3 separate regions of the Homo sapiens genome follow, and regions 2 and 3 are each reported to be linked to region 1. Evidence: microRNA targets listed by miRTarBase, many of them from high-throughput screens and not tested one by one. Region 1 holds a microRNA gene; each other region holds the end of a gene's coding sequence. Distances are from middle to middle.

Region 1 (4,000 bases):
CCATTCTGACCTCTCCTGGGCCTCCCTAATCCTGTGGGTGGGACATTCAGGGCAGGCCCACCCCTCCAATCCCCTACTCCCAGTGTGGGCCTCGGGAGAGCTGCCTGGGTGCTGGCGGAGCCTGGGCTGACCTGTAGTTGCCCTTCTTGGAGGCGATGTGCAGCGGGAGCAAGCCGTCCTTGTTGGTCTTGTTGGCGTCGGCACCCTGTGACAGCAGAAACTCCACCACCTCCTCATGCTCATTCTTGCAGGCCTCGTAGAGGGCAGACGCGTTGTCGCTGGCCTGCGTGTTGATGTCAGCACCTGGGGAAGGAGAAGAGATCAGCAAGTGGCCAAGTGACCGGGAAGTTGCTGTCCTCAATGTAACGCCACCGCGTGGTGGGCCTGCTGTGCTAACCACGGTAATGCACGGGACCTTTAACAACGACCCTTAGGAAGGAGGAGTCTACCTGGGGCTACCCCCAGCTTCTTTCAACAACATCAAGACCTAGGGGCCTGGCCAGGCGTGGCTCATGCCTGTAATCCCAGCACTTTGGGAGGCTGAGGCAGGCGGATCACCTGAGGTCAGGAGTTCGAGACCAGCCCGGCCAACATGGTGAAACCCTGTCTTTACTAAAAATACAAAAATTAGCTGGGCATGGTGGTGGGCGCCAGTAATCCCAGCTACTCGGGAGGCTGAGGCAGGAGAATCGCTTGAACCCAGGAGGTGGAGGTTGCAGTGAGCCGAGACTGCACCATTGCACTCCAGCCTGGGCAACAAGAGTGAAACTCCGCCTGGAAAAAAAAAAAAAAAAAAAAAAAGACCCAGGGGCCTGCCAGCCCGAACAGAGGCCTCTGAGAGGCTACAAGCAGCCACGATGATGCTGGTTTTTCCTGAGCACCTACTACGTGCTGAACATCGTGCTTTCCACAGGCTATATCTGAATCCACAGTGGGTGGTCACCTTGTGAGGTCAGTACTGCTCTTATCTCCAGATTACAGATGGGGACAGTGAAGCACAGAACACCTAGACCACTTGCCTCAGACCACCCATTTCATAAAGATGGAGCCAAACTTGAACCCAGATGGTCTGATGGCAGAGGCCATGGTGGATATTCTGATGGTAGAGGCCATGCTCTTAACCCTCACTCCATGTAAGAGGGCCTGGGCTCTGCCCTGAGAGAGGCCTCACAGGTCTAGGAGGGCACAGAGCCCCTAATAAAGGAAAACCCCAATAACATTATTAATTGCAATTTGCTATTAATATTGCTATTATTATTGCTAATGTTACCATGCTATTAATATTGATCCTTACTGCTATCAATAACTTCTAGCTCTTATCACTAGTGCTCCTTGTGCTAGGTATTCCCTGCATGCTTGCTAATTGCTAATTCTCTGCCTTTCACTTCAAGGAATAAGAGAATTACTTTCTGTCTCCTCCCAAGAAAATACTAGGCCAGGTGCAATGGCTCACACTTGTAATCCCAGCACTTTGGGAGGCCAAGGCGGGCAGATCACTTGAGCTCAGGAATTCAAGACTAGCCTGGGTAACCTAATGAGACTCTGTTCTCTACACCTACTGAGTAGCCCCTGGCCGGGCATGGTGGCACATGCCTGTAGTTCCAGCTACTTGGAAGGCTGAGGTGCAAGGATTACTTGAGCCCAGGAGGTTGATATAGGCGGCAGTGAGCCGGGATCACACCACTGCACTCCAGCCTGGACAACAAAGTGAGACCCTGTTCCCAAAACAAAAACAAAACAAAACCCAGAAAACATTAATCCATGCTGCTAGAAGGAGGAATCAGGCCTGGTGACAATCTGCCTTCAGCTCAGTCTTCTACACCTGCTTCATCTCCTCGGGCAGGGGGTGAGGGGGAGAACTGATGTGCACACAGCTTTCTCTGCAGAAAGAGAATTCAGCAGTCCTTCCTTGTTCTGGAAGGACATGGAACTAAGATGCTTGAAGATGTCAGTGGGGCTAAAATCAAAAGCATCTGCTAACCACAGGTCATCTCTCTAAGCATGTTGCTGATCTCAGGCTTTCTGGTAATTTATTATTTTTGATGATGGTGTGACCAGTTTCTGATCCAGCGGAAACAGCACAGGCTTTGGCGACAGATGAGAATCAGCTGAGGCATCTGTTTCATGGCTCACAAGCTCTGCAGTCTCAGAAAGCCTTTAGGAGCCTCGGTTTTCTCATCTGTTGACCAGGGATAATAGTACCTACCCCTCGGGGTTACTGCAGGGAGTAAACAAAATAGTGTAAGCACATCTCTCAGCGCAGTGCCTGCCACAGGGAAGCTGCTCAGCAAATGCCAGTTGCTCAGGATGGAAGGAGCTGGGCAGAGGCCTTCGTCCTGCCTCCGGCCTGAGGGAGAGCCAGTGAGCCGCCCTAACCCTCTGTTGGGCTCTCAGAGGCAGGTGCCCTGGAGAGCCTGGACCCTACCAGCAAAGCCGCCTGCTTGCACAAGAAAAATATTTGGGTTGGAAAATGGACTCAGCCCACAAAGTGAACACACCCTGACTCAGAGTGTCGGTGGGAGACCTGGACAGATGTTTGGAGTTATTGAGGTCACCCTTGCCTGCTGAGCATGCTGTCCGTCACCAGGACCCCCGGCCTGGGCTCCCAGGACCCTGCCTGTGCCCCTTTGTTCTTACGCTGGGCAGTCCAGATTTGTTCCTGGCTGCACGGAAGGGCCTGCACCTATGTTCCCCACTGCTCAGGCGCGTGCTGAGTGCATGGATGCTTACCTGGGCAGAGTCCCGTGCTGCCGACTCTCACAGGGTAGGGTGGCTGGCAGAGCACAAAGCATGTGCAGTTTGGAGTCAGATGGCAGTGGGTCAGCATCCAGGCTTGGACTGTGACCAATTAGTTAACCTCTCTGAACCTCAGTCTCTTCATCTATAAAATGGGACGAGCATACTACCTACCACATGGGGCTACGGGGAAAGCTCCATTGCCCCGATCTGTGTTCACACTTAGCAAGTCCTCAACAGATTCCTACAGTTCAGCCTCAGCGTCTGGATTACCTCTGGCTTCTCTGTTGCTAGAGAGAGGGTTACTTCCCGTGGAGAGAGAAAAGAAATCAAAGGCATTCTTGGGGAAGATCAGGATATAATGTTCTGAAACCAAAAGCAAGTCTGCCATGTCTCGTGGTCTTTTGCTACTGGGCCATCATAATGCAGGCCGTATTGTGTTATTTTCTCCCATTAAGATATTTCACAGGCAAAGAGGGCAAAGAGCTGGGTTCAAGTCCCAGCTCTGCCACTAATTTGCTGTGTGACCTTGGACAAATCACTTTCCCATCCTGGTCCTTGAGTTCATCACCCATAAAAGGGGGAGGTGATCTAAATGTTGCTTGAGGTTCCTTCTGGCCCTGAAGTGTGATGTGGTGGAAAGAGAAGCGGTTGGGGTGTCAGGAGACCAAGAGTCTAGCTAGTTCTACAATTAATTTGCTATAGGACTATAGATAAGTCACTTCCTCACTCTGTGCCTCAGACTCCTCGTTTGTAAAATGAAAATGTTGGACTAGATTATAAATGGCAAATAGGTGGTCCGTGGGCCAGACCCCCCCATATTTGTTCTAATGGCAGATGTCACTAGTGGATCCCGACGCTCTTCCCACTGAGCCTGGACACAGCCTCAGCATCTTTCTCAACACAGCACTCTAGGAGGAAACTCTCACTCCATCAGTGTGCGCACAAGATGACCCCTAACTCGCCTTCCCTTAGAGCTGACCTCTGACATCCTTCCCGTGTGCCCTTTGGGGACTCCATGACCTAGGGACCCTTAGCCACTCACCGTACTTGGCTAAGAACCTCAAGGCCTCCAACTGTCCACTCTGGGCGGCCACGAACAAGGGGGTGATGCCGTAGGCGTTCTTGGATTCCACCTTGGCTCCTCCGCTCACCAGGATCTGCATGACCTCCAGGTCATTGCGAGACACAGACTCGTGCAGAGCGGTCCAGCCGCGGTTGCAGCGGTGGTTGGTGTCTGCATTGTGCTGCACCAGAATCTTCA
Region 2 (4,355 bases), not on the chromosome of region 1:
TGTACAGACACCACTGTCAAGTTTCATGTAGTACAAAGCCCTGAGACAATAGTATCTCCAGTAATTTCCATTCTTACTGAATTATTTCCTTTGACCTCATCACCAGCATCGAATTGTTCAGCCTAAGAGCATGTTCTCATAGGTCTGGGTATTTGCAAAGTTTGCTTATTTTGATGATATCCTGCAAAAAATTATTTTGATGTCACATCTCTTGTCAGGTCACTAGCTGACTGTCATGAGCTGACGTTAAAGGAAGACACATGGACGTGAAATACGATTATTTCATCTGAGCAATGTGAGTTACCACAGGCAGCTCAAAAGCCCATTAGTGCAGCATGTGTCTGCAGAGGAGATGTCTCATGAAAATCACATGTCAGTGATTAATGAATCCATTCCAGTTGCCTCAACTGGGTCACTACAGCAAAGAAAAGTGCTATCAAACCATTTACCCTTGCCCCCACAACCCTCCTGCAACCATTAAAGATGTGGAGAAAGACCATGGTTGTTGCTGAGAGGGTAAATATTCAATCATGGAGCATGACCCATATGGATGGCTAAATATGCAAGTACTGAAGTAAGAGAAGACTAGAAATGCAGGATGAAATGTCAAAGGTCATTTTATTTACCTAGTCTCCTTAGAAATGGAGTCCCCAACTACTCATTCAAAAGAAATCAGACATAAAATAAACAGACATCATATATGATATCCTTACTTGTGCCATGTTTTCCAAGACCAGTGCATATTTTTAGACATCTCTTATTCGCCCAGCCATCTGCATGACATGGGTATTTATTAGTATTACCAGTTGGTGCTCAAAGTCAAACAAAAATATTTTAGTTAATAATGGGCAGTAAAATATGATTTTACATTATTTTAAATATTTGGGAGAGTTAATTTGTTAGCTAAATAATTCAAGGGAAAGAGATTATTCAACTGGTCATAATCACCCCTGATAATATTATTACTAATCTTAATTATTTATTACATCATCTCTTTCTCAATGGATCTAATGTTTTAATTTTTTCCCCTATTGGTAGAGAACAATAACAGAAGTAATTTTTATATTATACACTTGGAGAAATAAAGTTGAAACAGAATTAAAAATATTTCTCAAACAACTGTATCACAATATAAATTAAACTAATTCATTTTTGTGTAGACATACGAAATCACAAAAATAATAACACTGAAATAATTCTACCAATGCAGTGATGGAAACACTTTTCTTATGTACCAAGACATAGATAGGTAAGAGAAATAAAGAATTGAAGTGAATTAGAAAATCCATTTTATTGCTTGGGTTTAAAATAGTTGTGGGATACAAGTATTTACAATGCTATTGGAGTCAATTATTGACAACACTTTGCAACAGTAATACCATTTCTAGCTTTTCAATTGGCAATACTTAGAACCTTACTGTAGTGACCTGATTTTAAATACCATATTATATTTACTAAGTTAAGAGCTAGTTTTTACTCTCTTCCATAATTTCATTACATGAATGTAAGATGATGGCTCAAAAATGACGACTTATAGTTTGAATTTATGTGTATGCAATATACATATGAGAACCAAATTCAACAAGTGACATGAATGTTACTACATGAACATTGAATTGTATTGCCCTTGTCAGTTATTTCCTCTGTTCAATAAATACTGAAGGTCACAAACACCTTTTTACTTTTCAAGAGTTTGCCTTCTCTTCTCGATTTTAGTAATTAATTTGGATATTTTTCCTCCCATGCCTCTTCATCTGATTTAGTGGGATGTTTTCAATACCAGCAAAACAAAAGAACAGGAAAAGTATTTTGCAAACTCATCTACTGGAAGCTAATCTCCTTAAGGTCAAGCAAAAAGGGTCAATTTCAATTTCAAAGAGCTGTTCTTTAAATGAGATAAAGAAAGTCTCCTTTTGTTTTTAGATGGAAAAGAAAGCACAAGTTTTTTCTACCTGTGAATGAACTTTGGTGACCTATATGTGCCATTCATGCAGCATTTTTGTTCATATTGGCTTAGAATTCAGTGCATGAATATCATTACATTCTTATATCTAACATTCCTAGTTAGCTTTGATTCAAAATATACAAAATCTGATACATGAATACTTTGCTAGATTAATGACTTGATCATCTTTGGAATGAGTAGGCAAGACGATTTTTACCTATTATTTCTATGTTGTGGGTAATGTTAAAACTAAATACAGATGATAATAATTGCTATTTCACAGTGATGTTTAAAATGGCAGAGATTTCTCAAGCCAGAGAGATGGGACAGTCTTCCAAACTCTTTCATCAAAAAGGAAAGTAATCTGGACCTCCTACGCCCAAGAAAAACATCCTGGCATTCTTGGTAACCTTTTACTCTGCCATCCTTAATCTTTCTACAGAATTGTAGCAGAAATCATCTCCAAGACTGAAGAGCTGGCTTCCTGACATTCACATGGATCTACCATAGGCAAAGACACTGTGTTCCCAGCCCTTGCCTCATGGATGGCAAAGCCGCCAGGAGCCAGACACCCTAGCAGCCACCTATCCACCCAACCCTGAAAGAACATAGTTTTATTTCCGTGAACTATACTTTTTCCCCAGAAGCTCTAATAATTGGCATTAAAAAAATTTGCATCTGGGATTTTTATAACAATATAAAATAATTCCATGCTCTTTTTTCGGTGTGAAAAGTTCCTCTTTGAAAGAAATAGGATTTTGTCAATATCTCCACCACTAGCATAGTGAGAAGAGGATCTCAATCAAGATAAAAAAAACCAAACGATTTGAGAGTTGGGATGGGTACAGTTCATAGACACTGACATAATGAGCTCTTTCTTTTTTGTTAGGAAAATAAAACTGCTTTTTTCATGAGTATCTTTTACTAAGAAGAATTAAAAGAGGGAAGTCTGAGTTCCCCAGTAATGCTACCATTAAATAGCTAGAAGTAAAGCATTTATACAGCTTGTCATTAAAATAAACAAAAATGTAGTGGTACATGATGACAAAATAGTCTAGCTACACTAGAAAAATATAACTGCATAGAAAAATTACAAACTAAAGCAATCCATTCACAGTTTCTACATATGTTCTCATTATACATTGAATTAGACCTATTCTATGTGGAAAAAATATCTTTGGCTGGTAAGGTAGAAGCTATCAAATGTTCACCTTAAATACTGGCAGAAGACCAGTGCTGTCATGAGATGACACACAGCAGGGTGTTTCCTAAATGAATTGCAGCGAGGCAAATATTCCCTTTAGTGTCTTCTGACCCTAGGAGGAGGCTTTGAATTACTCGGGCTGCAAGTCAAGGGAATTGACTCTTGGTGTTCGAAATTCTATCCTCACACCCAAGGAGATGGAACCAGAAAGGCAGCCTCTCTCCAGAGTTTCCCAAGCTTGCATGAATTCATGCTAAATTGCTGGAAGGCTGCGTCTCTGCTGTGGTGTCAGTTCCGGATGCCACACATCCACGATGAATATCAGCCGGAAAGATGAGGCATCCTGCCATACCTCGTGCTCAAAGGAGTCATCAAAGATGAGCACCTTGCCTTCCTCCCAGGTCCTGCAGCAGAAAGACAAGGATTCCTGAATATAGTTTTGTGTGGTTCAGATGTCTGAGGATCGATTCCTGTCCATGTGCGAGAACTACCTTTGGTAACAACCTTTGGGACATAACCAAATAACTAGAACATCAAGCCCAAGTTTATTCTTCCCTTGATGATTAGGAAAGAATTTCAGAAATCTTGCTATGAACATCAGTTTTCATTGCTCAGTGCTGGAGATGTACAAACAACAGAGGATTTGTGATGAAGACATATTGGTCTCATTACATGCCTTGCAATTATTCTGTATATTATTACATGTCTTGCAATTATTCTGGTTTAGACATATGGGCAGTGACTGGGTCTCAGGCATCTCTATGCCTCTCAAGACACTTCCAATCAATTGTCTTTTCAGCTCACTCCACTTGTTCAAGTTTCATTTTATGGAAGAAAGGAATCTGCTTAAACACAGTACCATAAAGCAGAAAACTAAATTAGGAGTTTCCTAGCTAGTATTCCAGCTGAAGAAAATGGGCAGATTGGGAATAAATTTTGTTTATATTTTTAGTATCATCTTCTATGCAAGTGGGTTATCCATGGGATATTTTAAATCAATGCTGCAAAACACCCTATAGAGCTTCCAACTTTACCTCATAAGATATCTGTATAGGGACTGCGATCTAAATATAGTGTTAGTCTATTAAGAGAGAAACATACAGGAGGCAGTAACACAATGCTTTTCAAATCCAAAGAGAGTTTATGAGGGACACTGATGGTTCCTTATTTTAAAAATAGATATTAACTGCCAATATATTAAATACC
Region 3 (4,355 bases), 25 Mb from region 1:
TTGGGCAGGAGAGTACTGTATTGGTTTGTCAAACACTGGGTATAGGGCACTCTCTTATTGTTTCTTGGGGTCAAAAAGGTAGTCTCAAGGAGGAGCCACTTAATTTTTGACATTTGGAATTAGGATATGTTTTCCTCTTGCTTTTTTCAGACACTTTTGAGTGATCCATTTTAATGTGTGAACAATGTAGCATTTTTTTTTTCGTGGCAGACAATGGAGGTGAAGAGAGAACAATTAGGAGTTGCAGAGAACAGACAGCATCTTGCTCAATGTAAGGGAGGAAAAATAATATATTTTCCTCACCTATCTCAAGGTTCGTGGCTGAGAGCACTACAAGAAAACACAGATTAACAAGAGAAAAACATATACATTTACCTTTTTCTTGTTTTAAACTGAAAGTACCTACTAAGTGACTCAACCAAAACCAAAGAGCCTTTTATGACTTCACCATGGACTAAGAAGGGGTTCTCAAAAGAGAGTGCAGCCCTCCCAAATCCAGAACTACCCCCAAAGAGAGTCAAAAGAAATATACAAATAAACCCCCCAAGAGCTGGCAATACTTGGTAGGATAGCTGGAAATAGGGTGCAACCCACATTTCTGTCCAGCCGTATTCTTGAGTTCCCTCCCCTGAAGTTGGTTGGGGAACTCAAGACAGCTTGCATGCCCCAACAGGGAGAAAATCAAACCAAGTTATCAGGACAGAAATTGAGAAAAACAAGGAAAGAGACAGCAGTCCCTGCGAGGGAAAGGATCAGTAACAAACGAGTACCTTAAAGCCAGATTTAGTCAGAGAGTCACAATATAGACATTTTTTTTTTTTTCCTGATAATCTGAATTTGGGAAGGAAGGGACAAGGAGAAATTTCTAACGTCTCTCTTGACCAAGCACTACAGACAGAGATCTGGGAGAGCTGACTTTGATAAGAATTCTAATTTTTCCAGCTTTTTGTCAGTTGCCCCAGGATCTCATCTGCAAGATCCAGAATGAGTGGGGTGTCTCAGTCACCCCATATTGGGCACCAGAAACTGTAGGGGAGAAAAAGTAATATCTTGCATGAACGCATTGCAAGGTTCATGGCCAAGGCCCCCATAACAAAAGACAGATTTACAAGAGAAGGCCGGGCTCACACCTGTAATCCCAGCACTTTGGGAGGCCGACGAGGGCAGATCTCCTGAGGACAGGAGTTCGAGACCAGCCTGGCCAACATGGTGAAACTTCATCTCTACTAAAAAAAAGTACAAAAGTTAACCGGGCATGGTGGCACATGCCTGTAATCCTGGCTACATGGGAGGCTGAGGCAGGAGAATTGCTTGAACCCGGGAGGCAGGGGTTGCAGTGGGCCAAGATCATGCCACTGCACTCCAACCTGGGTGACAGAGCAACACTCCATCTCAAACAACAATAACAGCAACAACAACAAGATTTACAAGAGAAAAGCATAAAAATTTATTTAACGTAAGTTTTATGTGACATGAGAACCTTTAGAAATGAAGACCTGGCTGGGCGCGGTGGCTCATGCCTGTAATCCCAGAACTTTAGGAGGCTGAGCTGGGAAGGTGGCTTGAGCCTGGAAGATCACTTGAGCCCAGGAGTTCAAGACCAGCCTGGGCAACACAGTAGAGACTCTGTCTCTACAAAAAATAAAAAATTAGCCAGGTGTGGTGATGCCCATCTGTGGTCCCAGCTACTTCGGAGGCTGAGGTTGGAGTATTGCTTGAGCCTGGGAGGTTGAGGCTGCAGTGAGCTGTGATAGCACTGCTGTACTCCAGACTGGGAGACAGAGTGAGACTCTGGCAAAAAAAAAAAAAAAAAAAAAGAAGAATAAGAAGAAAGACCACCCCCAAACCAGGGAAATCTGTGTATTTTTATGCTTAAGTTTGATGAAGAGTAGACAGTCAGGCAGAAGTATGATTGGAGGACTAAAGAGTATGATCTAATGGGAATAAACTGGGGGAAATTTAGCAAGGCCTGTTTGTTCAGATTCTTCTCTGTCCCTGTGTCTTCAGAGATAAGGACATTCCTTTCCTCTGGGTAGAGAGTGAACACTTCAGGAATGAACATTTTACAACCTGCTTCAGGAGAGGAGGGGTGAGGGGAAGGTGACAACGGCCTTCCTGCCTCTGCTGTTTTTTCAAGGCCAACGTGCCGGATTTTGGAGTACTGTATCCTGAACCCTACCTCCAACTTCTCAAATAGTCCCTTGATGTCTGAAATTAACCAATTCATGTCATAAGAATCCACAGGAAATGTATATTTCCTGATTAAATACGAAAACTCACCTTGGTTTTCACCAACATTCTATTGAACATCCCAAGTTCTCAAAATGTACCTCACTCAGAGGGAGACACATGGTCACAGCCTGGGACATCTTCCTGCTCTGCCTCTTCCAGGTCTACCCAAATCCTTCTTGCCTTCCGATGCACAGCACACCAATACCTTCCCTGATTCACTCCAGCTGAATAAGATGCTCTTCCTATTGCCCTTGCTGCCCGGGGCTTGGATGTGATTCTGCTTTATATTATAGTTAATAGTTTGTAAGTCTTTTCCCATTCCTTGGAGTACATTTTTGGAGGGCAGGCACACACTGAGCTTTGTTTTCAAGCTTTACCTGAGCACTTGGTATGCGCTCAACAAATACTGAGTCGTTAAAGGACTCAGTCTTTCTTCATCAATCTTCATCAATCTGCACCTACTTGGTGCACAGCACTCTGTTGGGCACTCATAGGAGACATGAAATAGGATGAGACTTGATTCTAGCCCTCAATGCACTAAAAATCTCTGATGGAGGAGCAGGTACAAAGTGATTCTACAGAGGACAGCTTGAGGTCACTAACAACCTGGGTAAGATAGGTCACAAGGCCAAAGGCTGGAAAGATTTAATGCCTGGCTTTGAAGGGGCTAAAGCCCCCAGACCTTGCCCTGAACCCAGTCTGATGCTTCAATCAGAGCCTCATGGCAGTAGGAGTGTGTAGGCTGGGTGTTCTACTGGAAACGACTAAATTATCCTACGGGTCACCAATTGATTTATTTGCTAATTGACTGGCCCAGCTTTGGGCTTTAAATCTAAAGAAATCATTTCATCCTTTATTAAATACTGCATGAGTCTCAGTCTTTGTTCTGCAGGGCTATACACAATATACCAATAAAACTTGAATTTACACTACAATAGTTATGCCACTAATGACCTTCAAATGCCACTAATACCATACATGCTCCACTTCTCGGCTGGATCTGAACCTGTCAGTGAATTCTGAGCCCATCGACCTCCCTCTGACACAGAGTCGACCCCCTTGCCCATGCCCGCCCCCAGCCTCCCACATCATTCCATGATTTCATTTCTGAATCGGTTACTATTTGGAGACCCCAATTCCTTTACACCTACTCTTTTTATCTGGTAGACAATACTTTATTCGGAAATGTTCCCTCCTGTAATTACAAATCTTGTTAGTCATCCTCCTCCTCTCCCCAGGAGGATTGTGGGCTTTAATTAATTAATGTGGTTAAACCGCTTTGAGGTGCCTGGTTGAAAGGTGCTATATAAGTGCAAATTATTATTATGGCTGTTGACATCCCATGGCGGCAAAGCCCTCAGCCCTACACATCTAGAGACCTGAACAAAGGCTTCTTCATCTTCACCTTCCCTGCTAGGTCTGAAATCGCTAGCTCAATGGTTTAGGAGCAAATCTGTTACCATCTCAACAGCAATCAACTAATTAATCCCCATTATGTCAGCTTCCGTTTCCTTCTTCCAAGCAGTACGGTCCTGTTTTATTTCACAAATCACACCCCCATCAACTCTAGACAAAGGTCACAGTATCCCTATGGCTTCTCTTGGCCTAAAGGAAAAAAAAAAAAAAGAGAAAGTTTGAAAAAAAAAAATTGTTATGAAATGCACTAACTTCCCACCAGCAACCTAAATGGAACTTTCCTCCAACAGCAGTCCTCTTTCATACGTATTGCCCACAGAGCCACTGGCCTTGCAAACCAGAGATCCAGAAACACAGCGGAAGTGTGGGTTAGGGTCCCGCAGCCCTGGCTTGACTAAGGATAGCTATAGACAAAAGGGGAGTGTCGCTGCACTGGGTGGGAAGAGGTCATCCACAGAAGCAAGCACCCCTCTTCAGCTTTCTCTATGACCCCCAAGTTTCCCCTGAGAAAGCCAGCTGCCATCTGTAGCCAGGAAGCCCTCACAAAGGCAGGGGACCATGATTTAGATGTTTTGTGCTATATCTAGCACACCACAGTCCTTAACAAATGCCCAATACTTCCACTATGATGGTAGCCATTGAAAGCAGCCCTGTGGGGGAGACTTGGCCTCGCATAGGGACGCGGCTGACCAAAACACTCCTTACAA

The links. Region 1 holds the annotated microRNA hsa-miR-4506 (AAAUGGGUGGUCUGAGGCAA, at 1,016-1,035, opposite strand). A microRNA usually pairs through its seed, bases 2 to 8, with sites in the 3' UTR of a target mRNA and lowers its output. Matches are read on the target gene's strand: a 7mer-m8 pairs with bases 2 to 8, a 7mer-A1 pairs with bases 2 to 7 and ends in A, and an 8mer does both.
Region 2: the mRNA of ASPH is a reported target of hsa-miR-4506. Seed matches in the 3' UTR shown: 7mer-A1 at 843-849.
Region 3: miRTarBase lists RAD51B as a target of hsa-miR-4506. The part of its 3' UTR that is shown has no 7-base or 8-base seed match.

What each region holds. Positions count from the first base shown.
Region 1 is chr14:93,947,218-93,951,217 of GRCh38, forward strand. It overlaps MIR4506 (microRNA 4506), which reads right to left and starts at 1,085; the gene lies at 1,009-1,085. It overlaps ASB2 (ankyrin repeat and SOCS box containing 2), which reads right to left. Exons shown (of 10, transcript NM_001202429.2): 6 at 3,782-4,000; 7 at 132-303.
Region 2 is chr8:61,499,957-61,504,311 of GRCh38, forward strand. It overlaps ASPH (aspartate beta-hydroxylase), which reads right to left. Exons shown (of 25, transcript NM_004318.4): 25 at 600-3,553. The coding sequence ends at 3,403. It overlaps CLVS1 (clavesin 1), which reads left to right. Exons shown (of 6, transcript NM_173519.3): 6 at 1-1,673. Among named protein-coding and RNA genes, the nearest start is that of ASPH, 210 kb to the right of the region's middle.
Region 3 is chr14:68,477,130-68,481,484 of GRCh38, reverse strand. RAD51B (RAD51 paralog B) reads right to left here. Exons shown (of 11, transcript NM_133510.4): 11 at 3,392-3,837. The coding sequence ends at 3,821. Among named protein-coding and RNA genes, the nearest start is that of RAD51B-AS1, 210 kb to the left of the region's middle. RefSeq lists an enhancer at 4,142-4,355.